Linked DNA regions of Homo sapiens. The protein of the gene in region 1 purifies or fractionates together with the protein of each later gene. This does not show direct contact. Each region holds a gene or a part of one and is shown in the gene's direction. Other genes may lie near its edges.

Region 1 (4,971 bases):
AACAGACATATGAAAAAATGCTCATCATCACTGGTCGTTAGAGAAATGCAAATCAAAACCACAATGAGATACCATCTCACGCCAGTTAGAATGACGTTCATTAAAAAGTCAGGAAATAACAGATGTTGGAGAGGTTGTGGAAAAATAGAAACACTTTTACACTGTTGGTGGGAGTGTAGATTAGTTCAAACATTGTGGAAGACAGTGTGGCAATTCCTTACGGATCTAGAACGAGAAATACCATTTGACTCAGTGATCCCATTACTGGGTATATACCCAAAGGATTATAAATCATGCTGCTATAAAGACACACGCACACGTATGTTTATTGTGGCACTATTCACAATAGCAAAACTTGTCCATCAATGATAGATTAAGAAAATGTGGCACGTATACACCATGGAACACTATGCAGCCATAAAAAGGGATGAGTTTATGCCCTTTGCAGGGACGTGGATAAAGCTGGAAACCAACATTCTCAGCAAGCTATCACAAGATCAGAAAACCAAATACCACATGTTCTCACTCATAGGTGAGAGTTGACCAATGAGAACACATGGACACAGGGAGGGGAACATCACACACCAGGGCCTGTCACGGGGTGGGGGGCTAGGAGAGGGGTAACATTAGGAGAAATACCTAATGTAGGTGATGGGTTGATGGGTGCAGCAAACTACCAGGGCACGTATATACCTATGTAACAAAACTACACGTTCTGCACATGTAACCCAAAACTTAAAGTATAATAAAAAAAAATTTTTTTTTGTAGAGATGGAGTCTTACTATGTTGCCCAGGCTGGTCTTGAACTCCCGGCCTCAAGTGATCCTCCTGCCTCATCCTCCCAAAGTGCTGGGATTATAGGCATGAGCCACTGTGAGGGCCTGGCCATTTCAGTTTCGTTAATTAGCATCTATGATAGTGCCTGATACATGTAGTAGACACTCTGTGTTTATTGAGTGACTCAATATGTTTTATTACAATTACACACACACACACACACACAAAACCCATCTGTCATGGTAGACCACTTGCTGCCTGTTTGCAGCTAGTTTAATTAATACTGGGGTGTGCTTGGTGAGAGAAAATCTCAACCATTTAAGAGGAAAGAGTTTGAACGGGTTAGGGACAGTGGGAGAGGGGAGAATGGCGATGGGAGAAAATACAGGAATGGGCAGGGGGTACCAGGAAGAAAGGGAAAAGCAAAAGAGGCAGGGAGGAGAAGGGAAGAGGAAACTGGAGGAAAGGAGAAGGAGCTCACATAACCTCCAACCATCCTGCTCACACCAGAGGGGGTTTTTTTTGCAGGGGCAGCAGGGACAGGAGAGGAGAGAGAGTTTATTCAAAGTTAATTTTGTTTTTAAATGTCTTCTTTTATTTTTCAATAAATGATTATATTCTGAATACTTGGAAAACACTCTCTTCACAAAATTGTTCTTTAATTGGGTCTCTACAGGCCTGACCTCAGTTGTTCCAGGGTAAAGAATTTGGGCAGTGCCCACACCCACGCTGTTGGATAACATTTCTTCACCATACCAGTGAGGGTGAATGTGTACACGCCCAGCTTCCTGCCTGTTACTCTCCACAGTATGCGAAGAATATCCCTGACTTCTAGCCCTGTGCGCCTTCTTTTGTTTCTGCTGTTGCTACTAATAGCCTTGGAGATCATGGTTGGTGAGTGTCCTGAGCACAAGAACTGGCTGAGGACAAGGAGGAGGGAGAAAGGTAGGGGGTAGGCGAATGGGGCTTCATGCAGGCTTCAGACAAGTGGGTGCCTGCTCTTAAGGATGACGTGAGGAAGAGGATCCCTGGGATGTTACACCCAGTTCATGGGAGACCACAGCCTGAGGCCCTAGGCAAGGCACTGGCTCACAGAGGGCAGTTCTACAATGCTACCCCCCGCCTTCTACTCCAGGTCACTTTCCTGAACATCTGGGACCCCACAGGAATTCAGCGTGTGTCCTGTGATAAATGCCTCTTTTTCCTTTCTATTGAATGTCATGTGTGTTCAGCTAGAGTTTAAGTCTCAGGAGGTCATACACTGGCTTGTCTGTTTTGTGCCTCAGAACTTGGTAGATGTTGCTAAAAGTACTTGTGACATGAATCCTCCTGTTAACACCATTAACACTAAGTGCACCCCAGGGGTCCCTGGTACCATCAAGTATCTCATCCCAGACAGTCAGGGAGAGATGGGAACAGGGATCCAGAAGGTTGAGGGAGTCTGGGATGGAGCTGCCCCGCCTCTGCTAGCCTGGCCCAGTCCAGGGAGTCTTGGGTCACAGAAGCGCAGGTTCTAATGGGCCTCTTCCCCTGTCCTGGACCTCACCTGCATCTTTGTCTCACAGGTGGTCACTCTCTTTGCTTCAACTTCACTATAAAATCATTGTCCAGACCTGGACAGCCCTGGTGTGAAGCGCAGGTCTTCTTGAATAAAAATCTTTTCCTTCAGTACAACAGTGACAACAACATGGTCAAACCTCTGGGCCTCCTGGGGAAGAAGGTATATGCCACCAGCACTTGGGGAGAATTGACCCAAACGCTGGGAGAAGTGGGGCGAGACCTCAGGATGCTCCTTTGTGACATCAAACCCCAGATAAAGACCAGTGGTAAGTGTGGAATGGGGTGGGCAAACAGAGGCAGGCAGTAAGAGAGGGGAGGGAAGAACACAGATGGGGAGGGGCTTTAGGTATATCTGTGTATTGATCATTGGCCCAACCATAGAGGCACATGGGACCCAATGGGCAGGAAAGGGCAAGTCTGGGCAGAAAGAATACAGACCCCTAAATGTGCAGAGAAACACTTGACCTATTGGAGGATGATGGACTTCTCAAAGAGTGGAGGATGATGGCTTTGTGTTTGGATTGCAGATCCTTCCACTCTGCAAGTCGAGATGTTTTGTCAACGTGAAGCAGAACGGTGCACTGGTGCATCCTGGCAGTTCGCCACCAATGGAGAGAAATCCCTCCTCTTTGACGCAATGAACATGACCTGGACAGTAATTAATCATGAAGCCAGTAAGATCAAGGAGACATGGAAGAAAGACAGAGGGCTGGAAAAGTATTTCAGGAAGCTCTCAAAGGGAGACTGCGATCACTGGCTCAGGGAATTCTTAGGGCACTGGGAGGCAATGCCAGAACCGACAGGTAACTGAGCTGGGTGGGAGAATGTGGCAGCTCCCTTTAAAGGTCAAAAGCCTTCCCTGTGTGGGTGTCAGTGTGTGTGTGCGATAGAAAATTTGATTGACTTCTCCGTGGGCTTCCTGTCTGGAGAGTCAGTGATGGCTATAAGGATTTCCCACCATCCTCCCTTTCCCATCCCACCTCCCACTGTTTCTTCCTCAGTGTAGAAACCCCTTCCCATTAACCAATGATCCAGTCACAATGACCCACTGCTAAATGGTCCCAAGTCTATCTGTGTCATTGCAAACATCCAGGCCTTCTCTTCCTCTATTATAATTACCCTTCCACCAGCTCTAATGCCACTTCTTAGGAAGCCTTCCCCACCTTCCCCACACAGAATTAAGCACCACCCATTGTGTCATCCTCCAAACAGTTCTAACCACAGTAATCGTGAAACTGTGTGGTAATCAGATGGATATTTGCTACCTCTCTCAGTAGAAATCTGAGCTCCATAAGGACAAGGCACAACCCCTATTCATCTTCATGGCCCAGGGCCTGGTAGAGTGGCTGTCACATGAGCCAGTGATTATGTGGGGCACCATGTGTTCCTGGGGAAAGCAGGGGCTAAGGAAAGCATATTTTTATGCTTTTTTTTTTTATGTGACAGGGCTTGTGCTTTTTTTTCTTTTTTTTTTTTTTTTTAGTGTCACCAGTAAATGCTTCAGATATCCACTGGTCTTCTTCTAGTCTACCAGATAGATGGATCATCCTGGGGGCATTCATCCTGTTAGTTTTAATGGGAATTGTTCTCATCTGTGTCTGGTGGCAAAATGGTGAGTGGCAGGCTGGTCTCTGGCCCTTGAGGACGTCTTAGTCTGGTAAGGACTCAAGAGAGGTGAATCATGGGTCTCATCCAAGCCCCCGCTCCCTGATCCATCTCTCTCCACAGAAATGGTGCACTGCCTTAGTCTTGAGCCCCCACACTACACAGCAGGGCTGGCAGCACAATGTGCAGTGAGAGGAGGGATGAAGCAATCATCTCCTCTCGAGGAGGGGCAAGGTCAAAGATCTGGAACGCCTGCCTGGGGTGTTGTCTCCTTGCCATCCGGCCCAGGTTTCATCCAGCTCTTTGACGGAAAGTTTGTTTGCTGTCTGCGTTTACCGTGATTTAGCTCAGCAGGTCCCATCCCCTTTTCCCGTTCACCCTGAGAAGACTTGCTGGTGGCGCTTGTGGCTGCAGCATTTACTCCCAGATAACATACAAGATGTGGTATAAGAAATCCTTTCACCACCCTCTAAACATTACAGTGCCGAACTACATCCTACATTTTTAGTAGAGATGGGGTTTCTCCATGTTGGTCAGGCTCGTCTTGAACTCCCGACCTCAGGTGATGCTCCCGCCTCGGCCTCCCAAAGCGCTGGGATTACAGGGGGAGCCAACACACCTGGCTGAGAGAACTATTATATGCCAGACACATTGCCAGACATCTTCTGCTCTTTGGTCCTGTTTCTCCGCCACTGCTCTGACATGAAGAATTCATTTCTTTCTTCCATTGCTGTCTTTGTCCTCATAGTGTCTTCTCTAAATTGACCCAGGCAGACCTCAACATTTTCAAGTACAGCAATTTGGAAAAGTTAAGTAGAGCTCTAGGGTTCAAGTCACAGTTCCTGGGGCTCTCTCTGTGGAGTTCAAAGTTAGGATTCCCTCTAATGAGAAAAATAGGCTACTCCATCTGACTCACTGAGGATCAATGTTTCTGATGTAAGAAATGATTCTACCCTTTTCATTGCTTAAACGAATACCATGACTCAGATATGTGTCTGTTTTGCAGGGGCCCTGACATGAAAAGTGAG
Region 2 (4,971 bases), on another chromosome or scaffold:
CTCATGCCTGTAGTCCCAGCACCTTGGGAGGCTGAGGCAGGCGTATCACTTGAGGTCAGGAGTTCGAGACCAGCCTGGCCAACGTGGTAAAACCCTACTAAAAATACAAAAATTAGCCAGCTGTGGTGGTGCATGCTTGTGATCCCAGTTAGTTGGGAGGCTGAGGATGGAAGATCGCTTGAACCCAGGAGGTAGAGGTTGCAGCGAGCCGAGATCACACCACTGCACTCCAGTCTGGGTGACAGGGCCACATCGCGTCTCAAAAAAAAAAATAAAAAGAGGCCCCTTGTCTTTCAGGAATACCAGCGTTCTTCCCACAGGCTCTCCCCTTCCCTTGTGCTGTGTGGGTCTGGGTCCCCTCAGAGCAGGCGGAATCCCTGGGATCCCAGGTCTCTGGACAGGGGCTCCCCTGGCTCCCTGCTGCATCCTCCCACAGCTCTCAGAAAAGCAGAGGCCCCCTGCCTTGTCTCATTTCCCCACCAGTCCCTCCCTTCACCCATTTCTCACCAGATTCCACACCAGGCAATGGTATCTGTGATTCAGGGGAAAATTTCCCACTGTCGCCCAGAGGGTCCACCTTGGATTCCAGCGTGTGGAAGGGTTGGTTGGGAGGTGGCAGAGCACGGTGGGGCTACTCCTAGGCCTGGCACAGAGAGCAAGCCGAGGTCCACTCTCAGCTCTGCTTCTGCCAAGCCCTACAACCTTGAGCAAGTTCTGTGTCCCCTCTGTGCCTCAGTTTCCCCATCTGTATATATGGGAAGTTGGACCAGATAACCATGTGGTCCCATCCAGATCAGTCAGGCAGTGCTTGTTTGACCTGCCAGCATCCCTCCACCTGCTGCGTAGATGGCTGGGCTGCCTGAGTCTCAGCCAAAGCCCAGTGATAATTACAGCCATGCTGGCAAATAGGTATGTAGTGTTCACGGGGCATGGTGCTGGGAGCTTTGCTCACGTTGACTCATTTAATCCTCACAACAACCCTGAGGGAGGTGTTGCTATTATCCTCTTCATTACCAAGGAGGACATGGAGGCACAGAGAGTTGGATAACTTGTGCAAAGACACACAGCCTGTAAGTAGTGGAGTTAGATTTAAACTCATTCTGACTCCAGAATCTGTGTTCTTTCTGTTGTTCCTGAGCTCCAAGAGCCCCAGGATTCCTGGCCAGAAAATAAGCTTCCCCCTGTCCCCACCCATCCTCTCACCTTCCTGAGCTGTAATTAGGCGTAGGAGGTGTGCAGGGGTCTGGGCGGATGGAAGGGAGGATCGGTCCCGTTTGGTTTCTTTCTCAGCACAGCTTGGTTTTAATGCAGCTTTTAGCTGCCTTATGATTACCTCACTCACATCCAGAACTGCCAGGAAGAAGGCGGCATCCCGGCCCCTGTTTCCTGGCCCTGAGAGCCTCCTCTCAGCCCTAGGAGATCCCCTTTGACCCCCAACTCTGTCTCAGCCTCCTGGCATGAACATGGTTCTCCGTAAGACACAGGAACAAAGACTGTGGGTGGAGTGGGGCCGTGGCTGTGCTTCTCCTCAGACATTTCCAGGAAAAGCGTGACACACAGCCCCCTCCATGCCCAACAGTCCCGTTCAACATGGGGGGCCATTCTCACCGGATCTCCTTCCCCACCCTGTTCTCCTTTTCCAGAACTCCCAGGGCCCCCCACCAACCTGGGCATTTCCAACATCGGCCCCCGCTCTGTGACCTTGCAGTTCAGGCCAGGCTACGATGGGAAAACCTCCATCTCCCGCTGGCTGGTGGAAGCCCAGGTAGGGCAGGCCTGGGGCCTGACCAGCAGCCCCCGCCAGGGCACCCCGTGCCCTTGAGTGCAAAATCTTATGTGTATTTCGGCCTGTGTGAATTTTCATGTGCAGCTCTCAATGGCCCATTATACTCCAAATGCTCACACTTGCCAATGTTGTCTCCAACTCCCCCTGCCCCTCACCTGTGTACATGGAAAAACACACACACACTACAGTCCCCTCCTGGGTCGGGGGGTGCCTAGAAAAATACCCAGTTGCTGGAATATAAAAATATCCGCCTTGGCTGTACCCTGGAATCATCAGGGGAGCGTTCAGAAGCGCCAACACCTGTGCCCCTACCCCAGAAACTCTGATTCTGATTTAGCTGATTTGAGGGGCAGCCTGGGTCTCTGGAAGTACCCGGGGTGTTCAAGAGAATCACCTGGGCTGCTTGTTAAAAGCACAGATTCCTGGGCAGCACTCGAGGGATTCTGTAAGTAGTGGAGTTAGATTTAAACTCATTCTGACTCCAGAATCCAGGAATATATTGATCACAAGCATCCTGAGAGATTCTAAGGCAGGAGGGTTGAGTCACACTTGCAGTCATGTTTAGGGGCCTGGAAAGATGGTAGCCCCATATGGTGCCCTCCAGATGAGCCCTGGGTTCTGAACCAACTTCTTCCCTGGCAGGGCTTGTACTGGGGCTCGGAGCACCCCGTGTGGGCCCTGTAGGCTGGACAGGCCTAAGATCCTGCCCTTTTCCAGGTAGGCGTGGTTGGGGAGGGAGAGGAGTGGTTGCTGATCCACCAGCTCTCCAATGAGCCCGATGCCCGCTCCATGGAGGTGCCCGACCTCAACCCCTTCACCTGCTACAGGTAATGAGACTGGCCCGGGGAGAAGGCAGCAGCCTCAGGGCTGGGGGTGGGTGGGGGCTATGGCCCAGACCAGGACAGGGTTGAGAGTTGGGTGAGCTGCCCTTACCATCTTGCTCATCTCTCCCCAACCCCAGCTTCCGCATGCGCCAGGTGAACATCGTGGGCACCAGCCCCCCCAGTCAGCCTTCTAGAAAGATCCAGACCCTGCAGGCACCCCCTGACATGGCCCCAGCCAATGTGTCTCTGCGCACAGCCAGTGAGACCAGCCTGTGGCTGCGCTGGATGGTAAGGCTCCCTCGAGGGCAGGGGTGGGACCTCTCCATGAGCTTCTGGTCATTGCCTCCTAGAAGGTGCACATCAGAATTCCTACAGCTCCTTTCTCCTCTCTTTCTGTTTTCTGATGAGATGCCTGATAATCAACATCTTAGCCCAACGAACAAATGCCCCCCCGCCCGCCGATGAGAGGAAGGAGCTCAAAAATACTGTTTACTGAGCATCGCCAAGTGGCAAGCATTTTAAATTTTCATCCCATTTGATTCTCCCAATAATCTTACAAAGGATACATGATCATCCCAATTTACAGCTAAGAAAACTGAGGCTCAGAGAGGTTAAGAACTTGCCCACAGCCACACAGCTCCCAAGCGGCGGGTCTGGGGTTCAAGTGCCACTGTGGCATTCAGAGAGTGTCCCCAGATCCGGGCTGTGTGTTGAGGGTCCTGACCGTGGGCCATCCTGCACGAGGTAGTGACAGTAACACACCGAGGCTTCCTCTCCTACCAGGCGCTGTTCTGACAACAAGCCTGTGACAGCAGAGTGATCCTGGTCCCCCTTTTGCAGATGAGGAAACCGGGGCAGAAGAGAGGTCAGATCACTCGCCCAAGTTCTCCCGTATCCTCCCACGTGCTTTCATGAACAGCAGGGCTGAGGTCCCAACCCGGGGAATCTTTACCCGCAAGTCCACAGCCCTAACCATCGGGCACACTGCCGTCTCATCCTCTGGAGAACAGGCCACTTCTCCCCACCAGGCCCTCTGGAACATCGTTTCCCAGCACGTGTCCCACAGAGCAGCAATCCCAGGAGGCGTGTGGAGCAAACAAGAATTCTTAGACAAATAAATGTGGGAACAGCACCACATACCACAGCTCCATAGAGAATCCAGGAACACTAGCATAGCAGGAGCCCTCTTGACCCTGCTTCCCCAGGCCCATCTGACCACACAAACCCTTTGTTTCCACGTAAGATCTCACTCATTGTGCAAAACACAACTTGCAAACACACCACACTGTGAAGTCATTATTGCCGTTCCTGTGCGCGGACAGCTTGATGCTAGCGGCCATGAAAGCGCTTGGCGCCGTCAGTCCTCGATAAATATGAGTTATTGATTGCAGTTCCCTTCCCAGAGTGGCTGGTGCCTGAGCAGAGCTGCAGAGCTGTCTCGGCCCACCTCAGTGCCCCGTGCACAGTGTGACTATACCCACCTCCTGCCTCTTTGCTCCCAGGCATCCCCACCCCAGGCTGGCTCCCTGCTTCCTTCCTGAATCTCACTTTAAGGTTTGCAGCTACTAAAAGGTTAGAGCCTGATGCGGAGGGCAGGGACTGCATGGGGGAATAGAAAGGCAGCTGCCATGTGGCACAGGGCCCTAGACACTTCTCAGGCCCACGCTTAATGGTGCGTGGTCCATTACCTTTCCTCAGCAGGTAAAGGAACTTGCACTTAAGCCCCATCTCCGGCTCTCAGGACCATCGATTGCTATCTTAATGGTCTTTGGTCGGCTTCACTAAGTGTCTGCAGGAGGGAGGAAGCGTGTAGTGAGCAGGGGAGGTTGGGGCCGAAGGTGAGGAGTGGGGTAAAGTGGGTCAGCCTAGGGTGAGCCTGTGGACCAAGGGCCCTCCAGAGCCCCTGGGGAAGCAGAACTGGGGGAGGTGAGGGCTGGAGATGCCCCCACCCCAGCTCTGTGCCCTTCAGAGTAGTGGAGGCCAGGCCCTGGGCTCCCCTCCCTGTGTGCACACCTCCACTCTCACCAGCACTGCCCATGGTCATCCACACAACCTTAAGCTGGTGACCACAGCCCCATCAGCCTAGTCCTAAGGCCCCAAAGAAATCTGACTTTTCTTTTCTGTGAGACTCAAACAAGAAGGAGGAGGCTGGTTGGGCGTGGTGGCTTGTAATCCCAGCACTTTGGGAGGCCGAGGCGAGCAGATGACTTGAGCTGAGGAGTTTGAGATCAACATGGCGAAACCTCGTCTCTACAAAACTTAGCAGGCATAGTGGCACACGCCTATAGTCCCAGCAAGAGATTGCTTGAGCCCAGGAGGTAGAGGTTGCAGTGAGCTGAGACAGCACCATGGCACTGCAGC

What was found. Proteins that work in one complex are often made in the same cells at the same time.
Region 2: the proteins of RAET1E (region 1) and SDK2 purify together in Homo sapiens (affinity purification with mass spectrometry; 2 studies listed by BioGRID and IntAct, with this or other methods). This does not show direct contact.

What each region holds. Positions count from the first base shown.
Region 1 is NC_000006.12:149,887,518-149,892,488, reverse strand, and holds part of RAET1E (retinoic acid early transcript 1E isoform 1 precursor), read left to right. Parts: intron 1-1,454; 5' UTR 1,455-1,587; coding exon 1,588-1,672; intron 1,673-2,324; exon of another isoform or gene 2,325-2,343; coding exon 2,344-2,604; intron 2,605-2,865; coding exon 2,866-3,141; coding exon of another isoform or gene 3,142-3,149; exon of another isoform or gene 3,150-3,821; coding exon 3,822-3,991; 3' UTR 3,992-4,971. UniProt on the Homo sapiens protein: Binds and activates the KLRK1/NKG2D receptor, mediating natural killer cell cytotoxicity.
Region 2 is NC_000017.11:73,395,962-73,400,932, reverse strand, and holds part of SDK2 (protein sidekick-2 precursor), read left to right. Parts: intron 1-1,643; coding exon 1,644-1,765; intron 1,766-2,503; coding exon 2,504-2,613; intron 2,614-2,747; coding exon 2,748-2,898; intron 2,899-3,450; coding exon of another isoform or gene 3,451-3,525; exon of another isoform or gene 3,526-3,890; intron 3,891-4,971.